Linked DNA regions of Homo sapiens: region 2 is linked to region 1. The links come from fine-mapping of genetic effects on plasma protein levels. A gene starts in region 1. The other region holds a variant in brackets. All regions are shown on one strand. Distances are from middle to middle.

Region 1 (9,740 bases):
AAGTGGCTGTGTGATCTGGGACAAAGTCTTTAACCTCCTGCATCTCAGTTTCCTCCTGGAGGAAATAGGGACCGTAATAGCCTATCTGGGTTGTTATGAGGCAAACTACTTAAATGGTATCTAAACCAAATGAGTGCTCAATAAATATTGGCCACCATCATCATTAATTATCATCTTCCATTCCATTGTTTTTACAAGAACTGAAGCCAGTACTAACATCCTCACAGCCTCTTCCTTTGGGAGGCTGATGCCACAGGACCGGACAAGTGTGTGGGGGCATACACAGACTCACATAGGGACTCAGGAAACTCTTCTTCCAGGCTGCTCCATGCCATGCAGGGAAGCAGCCTCCTCCTTCAGGAACAAGGCCTGGGCTCTTGTTCCAGGGGAATCAGGACCCCTGCCTGCCTTTCGTTTTAAAATCCATCTCTTACCACTCAGCAGCAGAGCCCCCTTCAGTCTCCCTGTGGGCTCCACCTTCCTACCGCAACTTGAATGGTACAGCCTGGGCAGTGAGGACAACATGAAAGAAGAAAGAAAAAGTCTGTGCAGCTAGAGGGGATCAGGTGGGAGTCTGGGGAGGGAGCAGTGGAGCTTGCAGCTTTTAAAGAGACAGTGTCCTGTCCACAGGGCCCTGTGTGGACCAAGCATAGCTCGATAGAGCCTATAGGCCAATTACCCTAATCATGTGCATCTCCCAAACAGCCATTTATTAGTGAGACGTCTTTTTAAAATGCCGCTTTTAAATATAAATAACACTTAATCATCCAGCTGTCGTTAAATTCATGTTATATTGATTTCTTGGAGTGCCGCAAATTTGAGGGCGAATGGGCTGGCGGATGTGCGCACAAAGCCAAGAGGTAGATTAGCAAGTGGTGGGGGCAGAGAAGTGGGGGTTGGAGGAAAAGGAAGGGAGGTGTCAAGGGAGGGAAATGAACCTACTCAATAGCCCAGGGTCTGAGCCAGTTTCACATTGGGTAGCACTGGACACAAATAAGAAGAGAGGAGACGCTGGCACATCTGTTGCATAGTCTAATGAGAGCCAAGATCATGGTCGTGTTTTCTGTATTGCTGCCGCCCCCTTGTAACCCACCACAGAGCCGCTCCAACAGGTCTCTGATGTGCATTGTCTGCGTATGCCTTCTCTAGGTGAGGATGGGGAGAAGCAGCTAAGAAATGCCCCCTAGCTGGCTAGGAGGAGAGAGATCCACAGCGATTTCTCTGCATCAAAGCCTGATGATAACTATGAATCAAGAGTGGTTAATGACCCAGCCCCTTTAGCTCTCTCCCACTTCGGGACTGCTGCCATCCTAGAAAGCCCCCACTTCATTCCCAGCAGCCCTCATTGTGATGAAAAGGATCCCGAGGCCAAGTGTATGTAGGCAGACTCTGCCGTGCAGATTTCCCTGTCTGCAGGGAGTAGCAGCAGCAGGCGACAGGAAGGCACAGAGAAGGAGAAAGGAAACAAGTTGACTGCCTTGGAGTCCTCCAGAAATGTCTGCAGTGTCCCAGTGGGCATCCAGGAGGAAGTCCTGGGAGGACAGATGAGAGCCCGGGGAGGCGTGATTGGGTAAGAAGGAGCAGCTTGTAGGTGACCCATGCCTAGTGCTCACAGGAGAGCTGCCTTAAGCACCGTCTACCAGGCAGCGAGGGTCTGCTGAAAAGAAGCATTCATGGCTGGGGTTTTTCTAGTGTGACTCCCTTCCCAGTGAGAAAGACCTCAGAGAACTTAAAAGGAAGGGCACAGAAGAGTGGCAGAGAGGGTGAATGACAGCGTGGCATGCTCCAGGGCTGGGCAAGAGAGCCAGGAAAACGTAATGTATACTCCGCTTTACAGAGATGTTAATTAATGCCTGCCTTGTCCTAGAAACCAAATTGGTACCTAATGCTAAGTGCAGAAAGTGCAGAGATTTTCTGAACCCAGATGTTTAGCTTATAACCAGCATAATGATACTAGCTTTGCATTAAAATGATGGATCCTGAGGCTGCGAATACATGAGAAAGGAAAGAGGGTAGGGAGGAAAGCAGAGAAAGGAGTGGAGGTCTACAGGGAAGACACAGACATTTCAGGAAGATCCTGTACCCTATCCCTTTGCCTCTTCCAGGTCCCATGAGGGACTGTTTACCTGGGAGGCACCCACTGTTGCTGGAGCTCATTATTTCTTTTGCAAACCATGTGCTGCTGTACGCGTAGGTGGGATCTGCCTGTCCACGCCCTCAAGGGGCATGTGGGGAGAAATGTTCCATTTCTTCCACAGCCCGGAAGACAGAGGTGGACCCCATTGTCACACATGGCGGGGGCGGGGAGCTGACCACATTTAGCCAGACTCTGAGAACGCATGTGTGTATATATATTGGGTGTGTGTGTGCACACGCCCACCATTCTTAAAAAGCAAATAAGGTTTCTTCCCCCTACTGGGGTCTCTCCATTGTGAGAGATTTGCTTTATTCCATCTATGCTTTTCAATCAATCAAAGGGCAGCTCACACAGCACACAGCGGGAATACAATCTCCCTCCCGGGGTGTCTGCGCTTCTCCCCAGCCTAGCCAGAGACCTTTGCAGGAGCTGAAAAAAGTTTGGAAATAGCGGAGTCAGGGTGCTGAAAAAGCCCTTTCATTCAGCCCCTATCTTCAGGATTTACAAAAACAACCCAAATTCTGAGCCTAGCACTGAGGCCTCCTTGTTCAAAAGAATGTTTGCTCCTCTTCCATCATGTTCTGTAAGGCTCCTAACATATTTTTTCCACTGGTGGGTCTGTGGGATACTCTGAACACATGATCTTGGACAGAGGGTACAAGCTTATTCAGTTTTGTGGGAAAATGATATGATCATGTTGCCTAGAAAGCTACCTCAAAGTGACAGCACCAGAAACACAGGAGCTTGTACATATATATTCAATTCCGAATTTGATTTGGATCTCATGTTCTTCTCCCTATGACAACTGAGACCCTAAATTAGTTGCTCTTAGACCCCAAGAAGGGAACTATGGAAAAGCCTCTTAGAACCCCAGCCACTTCCTACCTCCTCCAGAAAAAGTTAAAATGAGCAGCCTGTGAAATTCCAGCCAGAGAGAACAAGAATGAAAATGCTTTCGGGAAATAGGACCTTAAAGCACGGGCGTCTGGGGAGTGATTCTACAATCGGAGCAGGCTTGGGCTCTGGGGGACGCTGGCAGACCCACGAATGCCTTGCCTTCTCCGGTGGGCAGTGCCGCCACGGTCGTGAGGGAGGGGAGCCTCCTCTTTTGGAGGACTATATCCCTCGTGCTTCCCCCTTCTAGTTCTCTTTCTCAGACACACACCACGAAAGGCATGTGACAGGTGTTCGCCAGCCGGAGGCACCGGGGAAGGCAGCCCCATGTGCCCAGGGAGGGTAGGGAGGTGAGAGGGGACCCAAGTCCTGTGTCTCCAAGTCCTGTCTGCTTGCTGCTAAGCAGGCACTGAGGCTGTGAATAAGGTCTTACCTTTTAAGGAGGATCTGACCCCCGTACCTTCCCTAGACAAGCAACATACGCGGCGATGCTTTAAGCCGCTTTCTGCCTGAAATCTCGGCGCATTCCCGGGGAAGCAGTGCCACGCTTCAGAAAGGCGTTTGTGCTGCCTCTTACTGGGGAAACGCAGTGTCTGTTTCATATGCGCCGCCCTACAGAACTGCAGCCCCAACCGCCTATCTGGCCTCCTCCCCGGGCGCTGGGCCACCACTCTCTCCAAATATGCGTCCGAATATCTGTGGGTCTGTCTCCCGTTGAAATCCCAGGGTGTCCAAAGGCCACGGGGCCGCGATGACACTGGGTAGGTCTCCGGAAACCTCTCAGGACTTCTCCCATTTTAAAGCCCAGCTAGGGACGAAAGGGGCTGGGAGCTGAAAAATTGCTCCCTCAACCTCCCCGGGTGGGAGGCAGAGCCGGGAATACACAGAATCCCACCCCGAAAGTCCCGGGAAAGAGAAGTCTGAGTCCAGGAGCGTGAGAGGAGAACACACCCGGGAAATCCCTGCTCCGGCCGCTGCACCTCCGCGGGCGTCCAGGTGGGACGTGGGCAGGTGCGCGAGCGCCGTGTGTGCCGGTGTGGATCTGTGTGTGTGCCTGCGTGTGTGCGTGTGCGTGTGCCGCGGGCTGGCTCCGGGACACTGAGGACTCCCGGGTCGGCCCAGGTCTGTCCGACCTTGCTGCCCTCGCCGCCCGCCCGGCCCCACTCCCCGGCGGGCCGGCTCCTTACCTGGACGCGCCGCGTTTCCCTCCTTCAGCGGGAGCGCCGCATTGACACTGCAGATGGAGCCTATGCCGCTGCCTCTCGCCCTCCTCTGAACGTGTGCGTGTGCGCGCGTGTGGCTGCCTCCTCCAGCCCCAGCCCCGAACGCAAATACTCCACCGAGGCACAGGGAAGCCGGGAGCAGCCGAGGAACGCGGAGGGCGCCGAATCAGAGCCTGCGGGGCTTGACAGCTTCTCTTGCGGCGTCCAAGGTGGGCGTAATGTCCAACAAAAAGGTCGGAAAATGGGGATCGATTCCGAACACCCCTTTCCTCCACCCAGCCCCGGAGCCCGAGCAGCGGCGGCGGCTCTCGGGGGCTGCGGTGGCGACGCCGGGCTGCCCCCCTTCGTCCCCACCCCCGCGGGCTGAATGTCCTTGATGCCAAGCGGGCACAGCGGCGTCACTCCGCGCCGCCCATGCTCGCCCGGTCGGGCCGCTGCCCGGGCGCGGCGAGTGCGCGGGGGACCCGCCGGGGAGCGCTCTCGGCGCCTCTGCGCGCCTCTCTGGGTAGCGGCGGCCGCCCCCCGGCAGCCCGCGGCCGGCCGCGCCGCGGCAGCCCCCACCCTTGCCGAGACACTCGCCGGGCAGTGCCCTGGGGCCGGGGCTGGGGGGCCGCGGGAGCCGCCGGCTGCTCCCCGGGGAGGCGCGGGGCTGCGGCGGTGGTGGCTGCGGCGGCTGGCGCTGCGGCGGCGGAGAGCTCGGCCGCGGGCCGAGCCGGGCCTCCCGGGCGCGCCCCCGGCCCCCCGGGCGGGCTGCTCGCAAAGTTTGCAGGGGGCAGGGAGCGGGGCCGCCGCTGGCTCGGCCGCCGCCGGAGCTCCCGGGCTGCCTGCTGCCGCCGCGGCTCGCTGCTGCTGTGCATTGAAGCCCGGCCAAGCGCTGCAAAAACTCCAGCTGCCTGGCGCTCTCTGGGTCCTCCTCTCCTCCCTCCCGCCCTCCCTGCTTCCCTTCCTCCCTCCCTCGCCTCGCCTCCTCTCCTCCCTGCCGCCCGCCGCCCGCCGCCGCTCCCTCTCTGGCTCGCTCTCGCTGGCTCGGAGCTCGCGGCTGACATCTAGAGCGAGGGAGAGCGGCCGGCAGAGGGGGCAGGGGGCGCCTCCCTACATGCTCCCACCCGCCGCCGCCCGGCTTGCCGGCTCTCCTCCGCACCAACGTTTGCCGACACCCCCCTGGGTCCCCTCGGCCCGCACGGAGCTACCCTGGCGGTGGCGATGTGGGGCGGAGAGAGGGGCATACATGGGTGACCGGAGCGCACGGCGCGCGCTCAGAGGGAGGCGCTCAGCCGCCTCGGAATTTGCAGCTCTGGGCGCTGGCCGTCGGAGGGACCCTCAGGTGCTCAGAGCTGACACAAGCGCACACTGACTCTGAGGCATACACCCATTGCTAGTCAGAACCCCTCCCAACACCCCACCAAGTCACCCCCACATGGCACCCAAGGAGGCCGAGGACACTGAGGGCACAAGGCCCGCACGAGAGAACATGAGTGGCCAGTGCCCCAGAGCTGGCTTGGTAACCTGACTTTTCCATTCATGTTTATACTGAGCGGCTCTCCTGGCTCCTCTCTTCTCTGAAACCCTAGATCCTAGACTACATCCAGAACAGACCATGCCAACATCAGGGTGGTTTCTGAAGCCCAAAGAAAGAAATCACCATGTAGCTCTGGTTTAGGCAGTGAAGATGGGGAGTGGGTGGCACTACCTCCCAAACCTCTGCCTAGATCCCCCTAGGAATGGGCCCACCCACCAAGAGAAACCGAAGGGATTCCCACACCTGTTAACTCAACTCTGTGCATGCCACCCTCATCCTCATACCCGCTCCCACCATAGTCTGAGGGAAGTGGCACCTTCAGCAGAGTCCAGTAAGCATTCCCTGGGATAGGCAACCAGCAAGGACGACCCTCTAAAGGAGCCCATGGCTCTTGGCCTCCTCTCTCCTGTCCCTTCTTTAGTTTTCACTGTCCTCACACCCAGAAACTCCCGCCCATTACTGTCCCTCCCATCGAAACATCTCAGAGCCTCCTTATTAGGTGGACATGACTGATAATGGCTTAAATGCCTATACCTCCCTATAGGGGTTATATTCTCACAGAAATCGAAGTTGTGTGAATTGGGGAGCCTTTGAAAGGAGCTGTGAGATGACAGCTTAAACAAGCCCCAAGGTGAGCGGCACATATAGGTCAGGCTTGGCCCACCCAGAGAGGACCCTGCTGAAACTTTGCTCTCACCAATGAGAAGATGAACCAAGCCAGAATGAGGAGGAAACCACATGTTTGATTCTTTGGTTAAAGGATATTCCAGGAGACAGCGTGGAGCCCTTTTAGTCTCTGGTTCTCTGCTGAGTCTTGCATGGCCCAGAAAGCAGCAAGGAGTTATCTTATTAAGCTTACATGAATACATTGATCTGACTCCACTCTTCCCAGAAACCCTGAATCCCAGACTCTAGATAAAGCACACAATATCAGGTTAGTTTCAGAAGTCCAGAGACACACATAACAAAATCACTCAATGCTACTGCCTCTTGAACATCCTTCCAGGGTGGAGGAAGCCCAGGGCCAAATGCCTCTCTCTGCAAGACTGGGATTAGCACAAGGCCAGCCGGGCACTGAGGATACAAAATCCAAGGAGGCCCTGTCACCCCAAGGTCCATGTAAGGTTTGCATCACCTGATCCTGACACTGCTTCTAGGTGTCCCTTTTAAAATTGCTGCATGGGTCCATCACGGCCCATTTCCAGAAGTGACAGCCCGGATAGCCCCATGAAAGTCCCTAATGGGTTACTTAAGGAATATCGTTCAATTAAAGGCGCGGGGGAGACTCCTTTCAAACTTCTGTTGGCCACTCAGCTTTCAGGGTATGTCATAAAATGCTGAAAGGAAGGGGGGAAGGTGAGAAAACAACTCTGTCTCAATTCTCAGTCATTCTAGCATGTATTTTTAATACAATCTGATTGTCTTTTTCCTCCTCATATCGGTTGTATTTGTGTGTGTGTGCGTGTGTGTGTGTGTGTGCGTGTGTGTGTGAATATGGCTTGAGTTCCAGGCCCATTTCCTGATGGATGGACGGGAAGTCAAAGACCTTTTTTTTTTTTTTTTTCCAGAGGTGGCAAATAAAATGTGTTTATTATTCTTTATCTCCTGCCTAGTGTGTGGTGTCATTTATTTTCATTCAAAGAAATGAATGCCATGTGGTGCCTGAAGAGTAATAACAGAGCCAAATGACAGGGAAGACACACAGCAAAAAGCTGGACCAGCCACGGGCAGGTGAGGGGCCCAGCGAGCTCTCCCGTTGTTAATGGGGCCAGGGGCCATATCTCAAATTGCCTTTCCCCGGTTGCCTTCCACTGAATAACACGGTAAAAGGCATACCAAAGGGGGCAGTTATCATATTATCGGAAGGAGGAGTAGAAAGGGTCAAATTAGCTGCAGTAGAGGATTTTTTTTTTTCAGTGATGACCCATTGGATTGACTCCCTTAAGTTAGGAGAATGGAATGGGGTGGGATGAGTAGGGCCTCTACATTGGAAGTTAGAAAACACATGTCCTACTCCTGGCTCTGTCATTGGCCAGCTTTACAATTTGGAGCGGGTCACGTCCTCTCAATGATACCTCATCTCTCACCTGACACATTCGCCCCTTAGAGTTGCAATGACATTCAAAGGACATACCATCTTATTAATGTGCTTTGAAACTCTAAGGTAGGTACAAAACACATGTAGGGAATTAGAGTCGCTTTCCAGATGAATGTATCTTTTTATTTTTTTCAAATAGAATGATACAATGAGGGTAGGCCTTCTGCTATCTTGTCCCCACCCCAAGAATAAATACACAGGCAAAAGCAGCATCTTACCACAGTTCAAAATGTGTTTCTGCATTAGGTACAAGATCTTCTGGCTCTCACACCTCCTCTACCCCCTCTCCCTTGGTGAGGGCTAAGGGAGACACAAGTAGGACCATCTAGGTGTCCCCTACTGACAATGGCTCTGTGAGTCACTCCCTCTACCTCTTGCCTGGTCGTGAAACTGGTTATGTCATTGTCTGGACCCATGGCCACAAGAGGGAGAAGCTAAATGGCACATTGCTTCAGAGAGTCCTGTTTTCTAAAGAAGCTATGTCTGTGGGACTTGGGTTGGGGTTTATTGCTGGGTTTAGACAGAAAAAGTATTGGTTCATCTCCCACAGCTGAATAAAAGGACCAGTTTAATAGGAAAGAGGAGAAGAAACTCTTAAGTTTCCCCTCACTTAGCTACCACCATTTTATTAGCCTAGGAACAGTGCTGCTATTTAAGTTGATAAAAGCCAGATTTGCTCGTTAAATAAATCACCAGAGCCTGGTGGTGCTAGAGAGACATTTTCTTTCCCCCAAGAGCTGCCCCCATGGCTGGGTCTTGTACCTTGCACTGGATAGAAAAACCACAGGCAGGCAGTCAGCAGCTTAAAAACCTAAATTGTGGCGCCACCTGCAGGACAGCAGGAATATCATCAGTATCCCACAGCTCAGCAGAGGAGGCAAGAGGAGCCTTCCGCAGTGACACAGGTGAGGCCAGGGTGCCCTCTGGCCCCTGCTTTCTGCATGTGTCACCACATGTCCACAGCACACTCCAGCAGCCTTTAATCTGCATCCTCCTTGAATGCTGCCATTTCGAGGGATGGGCAGCAGCTCTCAAGATTCTCAGTCCATTCAAACTAACTTATTCTTCCATCTGTCTCCTAAGGGACTAAGTGGACCTCTAAGCCAAGGGTTCTGTCTTCAAGACTGGACCATGGAACAGTAAAACAGAAAGGAGAAGTGACTGCCTTTCAAGGAAGATGAGGGGAGGAACATCCTTGTGTCACCACAGGGCCTACTAGTAAGTTGAACTTGGTGGCTGGGTATTCTCAGTAGACCCAACTGTTCCAGGCTTCCCTAGCATGTGGGTGCAAATCAGCACAGAGATATTAACATCCGAATTTCAACTCCCAGCCTTTTCTGCTCAGATAAAACTTTGGCCACCACTGAAAAACCCCTCCCTGTCTCCTCCCATTATGTCAGAGACCGCCACTGGTGGGTGTGCTTAGGAACAAGTCTGACCATTTCATTCACCACAAGTACCCTCTTGGAAATCCACTGCCCATGAGCCATTTGATGGAAGGACATCTCTGCATTGCCAGCTCTGTGGTTGCCCTCTGCAAGGGCACCTCCACCCGGCTGCACTGCTGGACATGGCAAGCTCTGCTGCCGTGCCATGGCTTTCCAAGCCACACCGGGGGGTTGGTGTTTAGGTGGGGAGGACACCCCTCTCCTCCTACACACACACACACACACTGTGGATCTTGATCCTCTGGGCACCAAAATAACTCCCATGCCTCCCATGGTCCAAGTCTTACTCCCCTTCCTCCCCAGACCCTTTCATCCACTGCCCCCTCTCCAGAATGCTTCCTTCTCTTTCAACTAACAAAAACAACAAACAAACAAACAAACAAAACTTGTCTTTTTAACCGCAGAAACCAGAAGTTAGAGG
Region 2 (9,740 bases), 23 kb before region 1:
GGCACAAGATACAGGTCATAAAGACCTTGCTGATAAAACAGGATGTGGTGAAGAAGCTGGCCAAAACTCACCAAAACCAAGACGGTGATGAAAGTGACCTCGGGTCGTCCCCACTGCTCATTATATGCTAATTATAATACAGTATCATGGTAAAAGACACTCAGGCCAGCACCATGACAGTTTACAAATGCCATGGCAACATCCACAAGTTTCCCTATATGGTCTAAAAAATGGAGGAACCCTCAGTTCTGGGAAATCTCTGCCCCTTTTCTGGAAATCTCATGAATAATCCACCCCTCGTTTAGCATATAATCCAGAAACAACTGTAAGTATACTCCATCAAGCAGCTCATCCTGCTGCTCTGCCTATGGAGTAGCCATTTTTTTACTCCTTTACTTTCTTAATAAACTTGCGTTTGCTTTACTTTATGGACTTGCCCTGAATTCTTTTCTTGTGTGAGGTCCAAGAAAACTCTGTTGGGGTCTGGATCAGGATGCTTTTCTGGTAAGGCCCCTATCATCATCCCACCTAAGAAAACAGGAATCCCAGGGAACCTAATTTCCCCTCGTACAAAATATTTATTAACTACTCACACCCTTGAGGTGTCTTGGTAGGAACTGAACCACTTAGTTCAGACATTGGAAGTGATTCCAAACTTGGCTACTCATGAGAATCACCTAGGGAACTTAAAAAAAATCCTGGGTCCCAACCCTGGTGATGCTGACACATTTGGGCCCTCCCAAGATTTTTGAAAGCTGGAACCATCAATGCAGGAAAAACCTTAAAAGTGAGTGGACCCTAAAATCTTCCTGGGGGCAGATTTCCGTGCTTCTGGGAGGGTCATTTCCCTGAGTCATTACCCTCCTTAGTGTTCTGGAAAATGGCAAAGTACATCAAATGCAGGGAGGATTCCTCAGCAGTCATGACAATTGCTATTTGGGTTAAGTTACTGCTACATCTTTAATATTCCCTTGGGGTGAGTTGTTTGTTTGTTTGTTTGTTTGGGGAGCAGCATGGGGGCTAGGATTTTTTTCTTAAAATGACTTTAGAATGCTCAGCTTATTTTTGTGGATGGGCAGACAAGTTATAATTCAAACCACAGTTTGAACATTAGGTAGAGAGAGGTAGAGTTATAGTTTGAAAATTAGGCAGAAGAAGACAGCACAGGTGGGTGAGATCCTCACTTTACAAGAAGGTGGAGGCTGAGCCCAGGATCCAGTTGCAGTTTGGAGCACCAACCCAGACTTTGGGGTTGGAACCTTGTTCTGCTGTGGCTGTTCTGTGGGTTCTATAAGGCTAGGGCTATACCCCACCTGCTGCCCAAGGGTAAGGTTTACCCTGAAGGAAGTGAACGTTCCCTAGGAAGACAATGAAGGCTGGAATGTGGGTCTTCATTGCAACTCAGAGTACCCCTGACCCCCACAGCATGGTGGTGAGCCTGCCCTTCCTCTAGGGAGCAGGATGCCCAGGAGTGGGGCATGAGGCACCCACAAGTGAGGACAGGTCTAAGCCTGGAGATGCCTACAGTGGCTACCTTTTGAAGAAGTGTTAAGTTACTCTCTGTGTTTCCTTTATTACCCTTGATCCATCAAAAAAAGTTGTATTCAGACATACAGCCTGATCTCTTTGTGCTGGAAGGAATCTGGGGAAGGACCTCTTCCAGGCTAGGATTAACAGGGAGAATAGCAATGAGAGGGAGGGGTCAGCATTTCTTCAGCTGCAGGAGGCAATTAGTAGACACTTAAAGAGGATCTGAGCACAGCTCAGCTAATTTAAAAAATCAGCATAATTTGAGTTTTAACCAAAATATGACTTTATTTTGTATTTGCAAGGCACCAAGGTCTGCTATACACAATTAACCTCCCCTGTCCTCCCCTCCCTCAAGGCTTCTGTCTGACAGACTCAGCGGGAGGAGGAAAGGAAGAGTCCAGCTCCTCTGCTGCTGATGACCCTAATAGTCCTCCTACCCCACTGGGCTGCAATGACCACATCTGCACCTATAGTCCCTCATCCAATTTGGGACTTATTGCAGTGCAGACCTTAATCCTGGTCTCTCCCTGACCTCCTGGCCACTCACACACCCAGTATATCTCCATGCTGTCCCATAGACACTTCAAACCCAGCTCCTCAAAAACAAGCCCCACCTCTTCCTTCTCCTGCATTCTCTCCCTTTGCTAGAGCACAAGCACCCACTCGGTCCTCCGTGCCCCTCAGCTGCCTCATCTAATTCTCACCAAGACCCACTTCTGGGCCTCTGCCTTCCCTTCCACTTAGTACCTCAGGCCCAGTCCTCATCATTTCTCCCTTGGACCACAGCAGCAGCCTCCTGACAATTCCCCAACACTCAAAGTGCAGTCCTGGCATGCCGAACTTGGAGACAGCGAGCTTAGGTGCACACCCAGGTCCCCAGAGCACTCAGCAGCTTTCTTCACACATTTTCTCTTCCCTTCTCTCTTGACCAGATACAGAAGAGCCAGTGGGAAATTGAGAAGCCCTTAACAGGATGGTGGAGCCACAACATGGAAGGAACCTGGGCTCCTGAATGACTGTATGGAGCAAAATCCCCCCACATACTAACCCATATTGAACTGTGGTGGTTTGTTACAGAATTAACCAGCCATGATTAATAGTGAGCAACTCAAGAACAAAAAGAACAAACCTATAATAGAAAAGCAATGCTTTTCCATTCACAAACCTTTCATTACAAAATGCCGGTCGTGTCCTACAGCCAGAGTAGTGAGTATACCTCGCTGGAGGCTGCAAGGGCCAGCCAGTCCCCATACACAATCAGAGCTCTCTGCAAAAGACGTAATACCACCAGCCCTGTACTGTACTCTCTCAATTGCCCTCTAGTTTCCCCACCCCAATATTGCAGTGTCTATGATCACTGAAGGAAAATGAAATATGATTCTAGGTGTCACCTTTCAAAGGGTGTTAGTGACTGTCAGCTAAAGTGATTTAAGCCCCGGAAAAACCTCTGTGTCCTTTTAACATCCAAAACTAATCCTCTTCACACCAGACATCGATGTTAAATAAACAGAGATTTCCATTAACCTACACCTCTGTACATCTATTTTTAAAAAGCGGTGTCACTCTCCTTTAAATGAACATACTAATTAGTGTATTAATAAATAGCTGAATGGAATCAATGAGACATGTAATCAAGGTCTGACCAGGAGTCAGGGCCAGGTTGAAGGGGGTGGGGGGAAGGAGAGGAGGGAAAAGAATCTTATTAGCAGGTTTGCTGAGGAGGGACATGTAAAATCAATGCTGCACATGCAGCCAAGATGCAGCCGAAGTTGACAGTAGATGGAAAGCTAAGTGCTTGCTCCGCCTCCTTCCTTTGACAGGAAAGCTCCCGGTGAGAGTTAATGTGATGAGCAAGGAAGACATTAATTGGGGCAGGAAAAGCCATTCAGAGATGGTGTCCAGGATCACAGCTGGCAGAGTTACCCAGAACCTCAGTGCTAAAGCCCTGACTCCTAGACCTTGTTTTAAAACACTAAGAAAGAACACACTTACGAGAGTTGATTTAGTTCTCAGCAAACACTTGGTCAAAAAGAAGTCACAGGGGGAGTTATTTGTTTGGGGCTCTTTGTTACTCTTACCCCCCTTCAAAAATTCTGGTTCACAAGCAGTAGCTGGAAGTACCTTTGCCCCAAGATGCTAGGCACTGGGAAATGAAGGGCCTGGATTCTCTACAGGCAGCCCTGGGGGTGGGAATGGGGCAGCCCGCTTCTTCATCAGCTCCCAATTTCCTGTAGCACACCCCATAGCTAGAAGGCTCTGGAAGGTGAGAATAAAAAGTCCTTCTGCAAGTGTGAGGTTTCCAGCTGAAGTGGTATCTGATTACCCGAGCCGCTGCTCACTGGATCTCAAATTAGCACTGATACTCCATTTTCTTCATCTGGAGACACACCCCCTTTGGGCCACAAAACACTGGACAGAAGAAAAGTGGACTTTCATTTCCCTAAAGATTAATATCAGGAGAAATGCCTTTCTGTATAAAATCAATTAGGTGCCTGAGACCCTCACCCCAAAGCCAGCTCAGTGATGCTAGTTGAAGTAGAAGTTGTGTTAGGATAAAAGAAACTCAAAAAAAAAAATTTGCCTTGGGGCCAGTACTGCCCATTACAAGCCCTCTTAGGGGTGATTCTGCCAGGAGGCAGGGGATTGGCTTGTTAGCAGTTAGAATGCTTGGCTCAGGATTCTGGGGTGCTATGGGCTCCCATGCCATGAAACTGAAGTTCTTCCTAATTCTGGTTGCTGGAAAAGCCAGTATCTCTGGGTGGACCTCACAGGCAGAAAACCTGCTGCTCTGAATGCCTAGCTCTGGCACGGCATCCACACATGGATGATCTAGAAGCCTTGCAGATGCGTCCTGAGATATGTTTCTGCCAGCCCCAGGCATGGCCTGCAACCTGCTCACCCTGAGGTCAGCATTTCCTGGAATGACAGGGA[G/T]GACACACATAAAGGAAGTGTGGGGACATGGCAGGAGGCAGCTCTCAGCAGCCCTTAGGCTATTTTCCACATTACTGCGAATGGTATTTTGCCCCCAGGAGGTTCATAACAGTCAGAAGGATCTCCAGGTTCCCCAGACCCATCAGAAAAGCCAAGGGGTGATGGTCATCAGCCCAGGGGGAGAGCTTCCTGACAGGGTACATGAAAATTAAGTGCAAAAGAGGGGCCAGAGACAGCTGTCCCCCAGCTCAATCTGAAGCACAGGCACCTAGAGAATGGCCACACATAGGACCTTCCCATCTGGTTTGAGAGGTCCTAGCAAAGCACCCCTGCACCAGTCCATATCTTACTCCCTCCATTGACGTGCTAAAAGTCTGCCACTGGAACATGGTTTCTTTGGGTCAAGCATCATGCTTTCTCTTTCAACAACCTACACCTTAGTGTACCTCCTCCATCACCTCTGTTTTTCTGTGGCCCAAGGATAAACAGAAGAGAGTGGAGAGGGTGCAAACAGCAGGGTCCCCACTGATCTACATGGCTATTTGCTGAGAATTAGGGAGTGCTGTCCTCTCTGGTTGACCAGAACTTGGTAAACAGAAGGCATCTTGGGGGAAGAAAAGGGCAACTCTTCCTGAGCAAAGAGATACACCAAGCCTTGGCCAATAAAACATGAGCAGAATTTCAGCCCTTATTTGCTCCCAGCTCACAGGTATACACACTACAGTGTATATCACCAAAAGCCCTGTCTAAAGAAAGAAAGAGAGAAATAGAGAGGAGATACCCAAGTACTTGGGGCAAAATTCAACTATTTCTCAATTTTGCCCAAGGATACCCATTTGGAGATAGATATAGATATAGATACATGACTATTTTCAAACCAAAAATATCAGGACACACACTCAAGCAATGGCACAGAATATCTGAAACACAGGCTGTTCTAGTGAACACAGGGCCTGTGGTCACTGTAGAAGGGCTGAAGAGTAGAGGATGGCAGTGACAAGGACCCTGGGGGGACAGTGTGACAATGAGGTGCCCCTTTTCCTTTAGGGGACAGAGAAGCAATGGCAAATCTCCCCATGGTGTGCTATGTGGTGGAAAGACCACCTCCACAAGACCAGAGCCGGACTCTCTGCTCACAGATGTCCCATCACCTTCAAAATACACTGACACACTCCGTTTCCAGAGTCTCCAAGCTTTTGTTCCCTCTCCACAGGGGCAAATCACCTTTCTCCACAGTCAACCAGTGGTTCTTTCCTCTCTCAGCCCGAGTGTTGCTGGGAATAATGCAATGTTTCCAGCTTAATCGTTTGTCATCATGCAGAGATTTCACTGATTTCAAAGCTAAGGTGCCTGGAAGAATCGAGCACGCTCTGAACCAGGGTGCCTCAGGGCAGAGGGTTCTCACTGGCTGGCTGGCTTTACACAGGAGAATCCCAGAGGCCCTTACTCACCAGTTTAAGGCTATCTTTCCAGGAAACCAGGGCCTGGGGCTGAAGACAGCTGAGATGGGCAGTGTTCATAAATATCACCTATTGGAGGCAAGTGAGGACATCCAAGTATGCAAACACCATGTACACTGAACACACCTCTCTGGTCTCTGATGGACCACTTCAGCTTTCTGACTTCGTTGCAGGCAAACATTAGCAGATGCCCCATCCTGCAATGCTTGGCATAATTATCAGGTAGGCTCCAGGCAATAATTACTCACTAATGGTTAGCCACTGCTTTGAGCCAAGAGTCTCCTATCTGCTCTCCCTACACCAAATTCAGAGTCTTGGGTGGTAAACCTGAAGGAAAAAAAAAAACAAAAAAAAAACAGTAACCATCACCATGGCCTGGCAAAAAAACCACATTATCTAAGATATCACTCCAGGTCCTATAAAAATAACGTATGTTTACATGTGGATGGCTGATCTGAGCACAGATTGAATATATAAACGTGGCTGTTAATTCTAGACTCTGAGAAAATTCTGAGTCTTCCAAAAATAAAGGAATCCCTACAAATATTTTTAAATCTTTTTTTAAGAGGTCATACTCTGACAGAGAGCCAGAATTAATGCAATGGGACCAGCCACCTGCTCTTCTTCCCTTCCCATTTGCTTATAGAACCTCAAGGCAGTAGACTTGTTGAAGCCCAGTGTTAGAAACAGATGTGACTATTTATAAACCAAGAAAACTGAAGTGTTTTAATCCAACACAGGGTGGCAAGAAGCAGAACTGACAAGCTTTAGGAATCTGAAGAACAGGCAACAATTTTCAATAATATTACCTCTCCACTTATTGAGCATTTAATATGTGTCAAGCAGTGTGCAAGCTATTTCCCACGTATTATGTCACTTAATTGTTAGAGCAGTCCCTTATTTTACTCTTTTAATGATAAGGACACTGAACCTCAGAGAAGACAGGTAACATGCTGACGCCACACAGCTGAGTAGCCAAGGCTTGATGATGTCTGTAAATTACTTTAAAATGCATCAGCTTAAACAGAGTGGTATAATGTAAGTTAGTTCCAATCCTTACCCAAGGATGGTTAGTCGACATCTGAAGTATTGTAACTAACCAGGGCTGGTGACTTAGCCTTTGAAAGCCTTGCATCAGAGTCTACACTGTTTGTTAAAAAACATAAGAGATGTTGGAAACAATTTATCAGCAGGAAATTAAGCAGTGTCGAATATGCATAATTGGTTAGAAATGCCATCCAGGCATCTCTGCCCTTTGGGCACAAGAATCTGGCAAGCCTAGAGCCCTCTGTGGCTCCATTCTTGGCCTAGGGGTCCTACTAGGGTCTATTTCATCTCTCAAAGGATGCTGTCCTCTAATCCCACTAGAAGGTGAGCTGAAACCTGCAACCACATTGCCACATCTGCCTCAAATAAATCTTCCTTGAAATAAACTTGTAAGAGTTACTAAGTCAGTGCCTCCCAAACTTTCTCACTTCCTGACACTTGCAGAAAGTGATAATATTTTTACCACACCCTGGGGCCAGAGAGGGAGCTTCTGCTGCTGCATGCCCCTCGTGCCCTCTGGCTGTCCACCTGCAGGGTTGAGGTGACCCGCTATATCAGCAAACCTTGATACCCTTCCCCGGCACACTAGTTGAGGCAGACAGCAGGATCCACACTGAGCTTCAAAAACAGGCTGTATGGCTATTTATGTGCCTGGTTACTAACAAATATTGGTAGGTAGGGTAGAATTGAGTCTGCAACTTGCTTTTGTAGGAAGGTTGTGGAGGAGAAGGCCCATAGCTCTCACCTGCCTATAATCACTGGAAATGAGTCCCCACATAATCTGCCCATTGGGCATGGCCAAGTTGGCATTAAGTTGGGTTGCAGTGCCAGACCTGTCTGCCTCCAAAGTCTATCCTGGGTCCTGGGTGCTCCCCTGCTTCTGGAGCCTAAAGAAAGTGAATCAATGGTTATTTGTCAAACCCAAAAGGGAAGCTCTTCAGAAAATGCCATGTCAAAGGGTTCCGTCCTTGGCGCTGTGCTGTTTCATACTTTTATCCGTAAGTTGAATGAAGACTGAGAGTCACATTTATCAAATTTGCAACGGACAGATTCCAGGACTTGTGAAGGTCAAATGAGATAATATGAGAGAAGTCATTTAATAGTAGAGTAAGACTCAACCCATTGATGAGGATGAAACAAAGTTTAAGACTATCTTAGCAGCCTGAAACAGGGTCAAAACTGGAACCCCAAAAAGAAATTGAATGTGACAAACATAAATTCAAATTTTAGGCTTCAAAAAATATTAATGAATAAAGTACCAGGTGGCAGAAGTTTGTGTAAGACACACATATAATGAGGGTGGGAGAAGCTTAGAGACCCACTGGTTACGAACCAGCAGTGGGATGGGGGCTGCCCAGAAACCCTGCCACATGAATGAATTTTGACATTGGGCTTTGCTATCCACACCTCCTGCAGATGGTGACCTGCACCTGTGATCAGTCACAAAATTAGATGTGGAGTCAGACCTACCTGCACCATGAGAAGCAATGAGCTCTCCATCAATGTGCAAAGCAGTTAAAAGAGAAGGAACCCTCTATCACGTGCTACTGAAGTTGAGTTGTTCCCATCCCCTGCAAAGGCTCCCAACTTGCCAGCACAGCCAGGATGTTTGGCTCAGAGAAAAGAGGTGGCAGGAGAGTTTATCAAAACCTACAACTTAAGATTTTCTTCACAGAAGATGGAGGAAATGGCGGCAGGGGGGGACGTAAAGATAGGCAATCAATTACCAAGGAGCCCTTGAATAAAAATCTCTTTATTTCCTTGAATTTTCCTTTAATTTATCTTTTTTTTAAAAAAAAAAAAGTTTTCACCTTTGCAAAACCTTTGGACTTTTTGACCAAAGACAACAGGAAGTCAGCCAAGTTTAATGGAGTTTTCATTTTGAAAAAGATGTTATCTGCAGCTCCTCTGTGCCTACCAAGCAATATGGTACGTCTGTGGTCTAGAGACCAACTCATTAGGTGCTCTGTTTACCATCAGCTGGTGAAAAATGATAATTGTATGGAAGAATAATCACCAAGACATGGACATCACTGCCTGCAGACTTCGCCAGGAAGCTACTTCCCACTTCCTGTAGATCCGCAGCTGTTTCAGGATGTGTAATGCCCTCTACTGTCCTACCATTCAAATACTTCTCTTTTCAAGCTCAGAAAACCAAGTTTAAGGTAGGGAGAGAGAGAGAGAGAGAGAGACAATCAAACAACCTTATGTTGGGTCCAGAGGGAACTGCAAATGTGTCTAAGACAATGCCTGCTTTCAAGAAGCTTGCAATTAAGTGGGAATATGAGATGTAAATACTGAAAATACAAGCCAATAAATCATATATTACCAGGAAATTCTTGGCAGGCTGAGTTTTCAGAAAGTCTCTACGTGTACTACTGTCTGCACACAAAAATGCCCAGACCTGGCATGTGGCTAAGTCTACTTGTAAAATTTGTTACCTGGTTAAATGCTGTTCCATGCCTACCAATATTTTTAAGTTTTCAAATATAAGTTTTAGGTGAAAATGCCATTCTTTCAAAACAGTATGTGCTGGAGAAATGACATTTTTTCAAAGCAAATTTTCTATATTTGGTCATGTGATATTCTGTAAGCTTTTTTATAAAGGCTCTTTAGAACATTCCAAAAATGAGCATCATCAAATTAAAACAAGAGAACTTCTATTACATTGCCACAAATCCTAGATGTAAATAAAATACCATTTCACTCAATAATGATTGCCAGAAATATAAATACAGTTTAGAAAAATTATTTAATTAGTTTATTTTTAAG

Evidence for each region. PIP is the posterior inclusion probability: the model's chance that the variant is causal. Protein levels are from antibody-based Olink assays in UK Biobank. Linkage for the fine-mapping came from a reference panel and not from the study's own genotypes, which makes the PIPs less certain.
Region 2: its variant is fine-mapped to the plasma level of the PLXNA4 protein (UK Biobank, PIP above 0.99).

The regions. Positions count from the first base shown.
Region 1 is chr7:132,572,204-132,581,943 of GRCh38, forward strand. PLXNA4 (plexin A4) reads right to left here and starts at 4,267. Exons shown (of 32, transcript NM_020911.2): 1 at 4,219-4,267. RefSeq lists enhancers at 2,751-3,728, 3,729-4,706 and a silencer at 8,600-8,769.
Region 2 is chr7:132,548,791-132,558,530 of GRCh38, forward strand. All of the region lies in intron 1 of PLXNA4 (plexin A4), which reads right to left. Among named protein-coding and RNA genes, the nearest start is that of PLXNA4, 23 kb to the right of the region's middle. The variant G/T (reference allele first, on the strand shown) is at 4,462.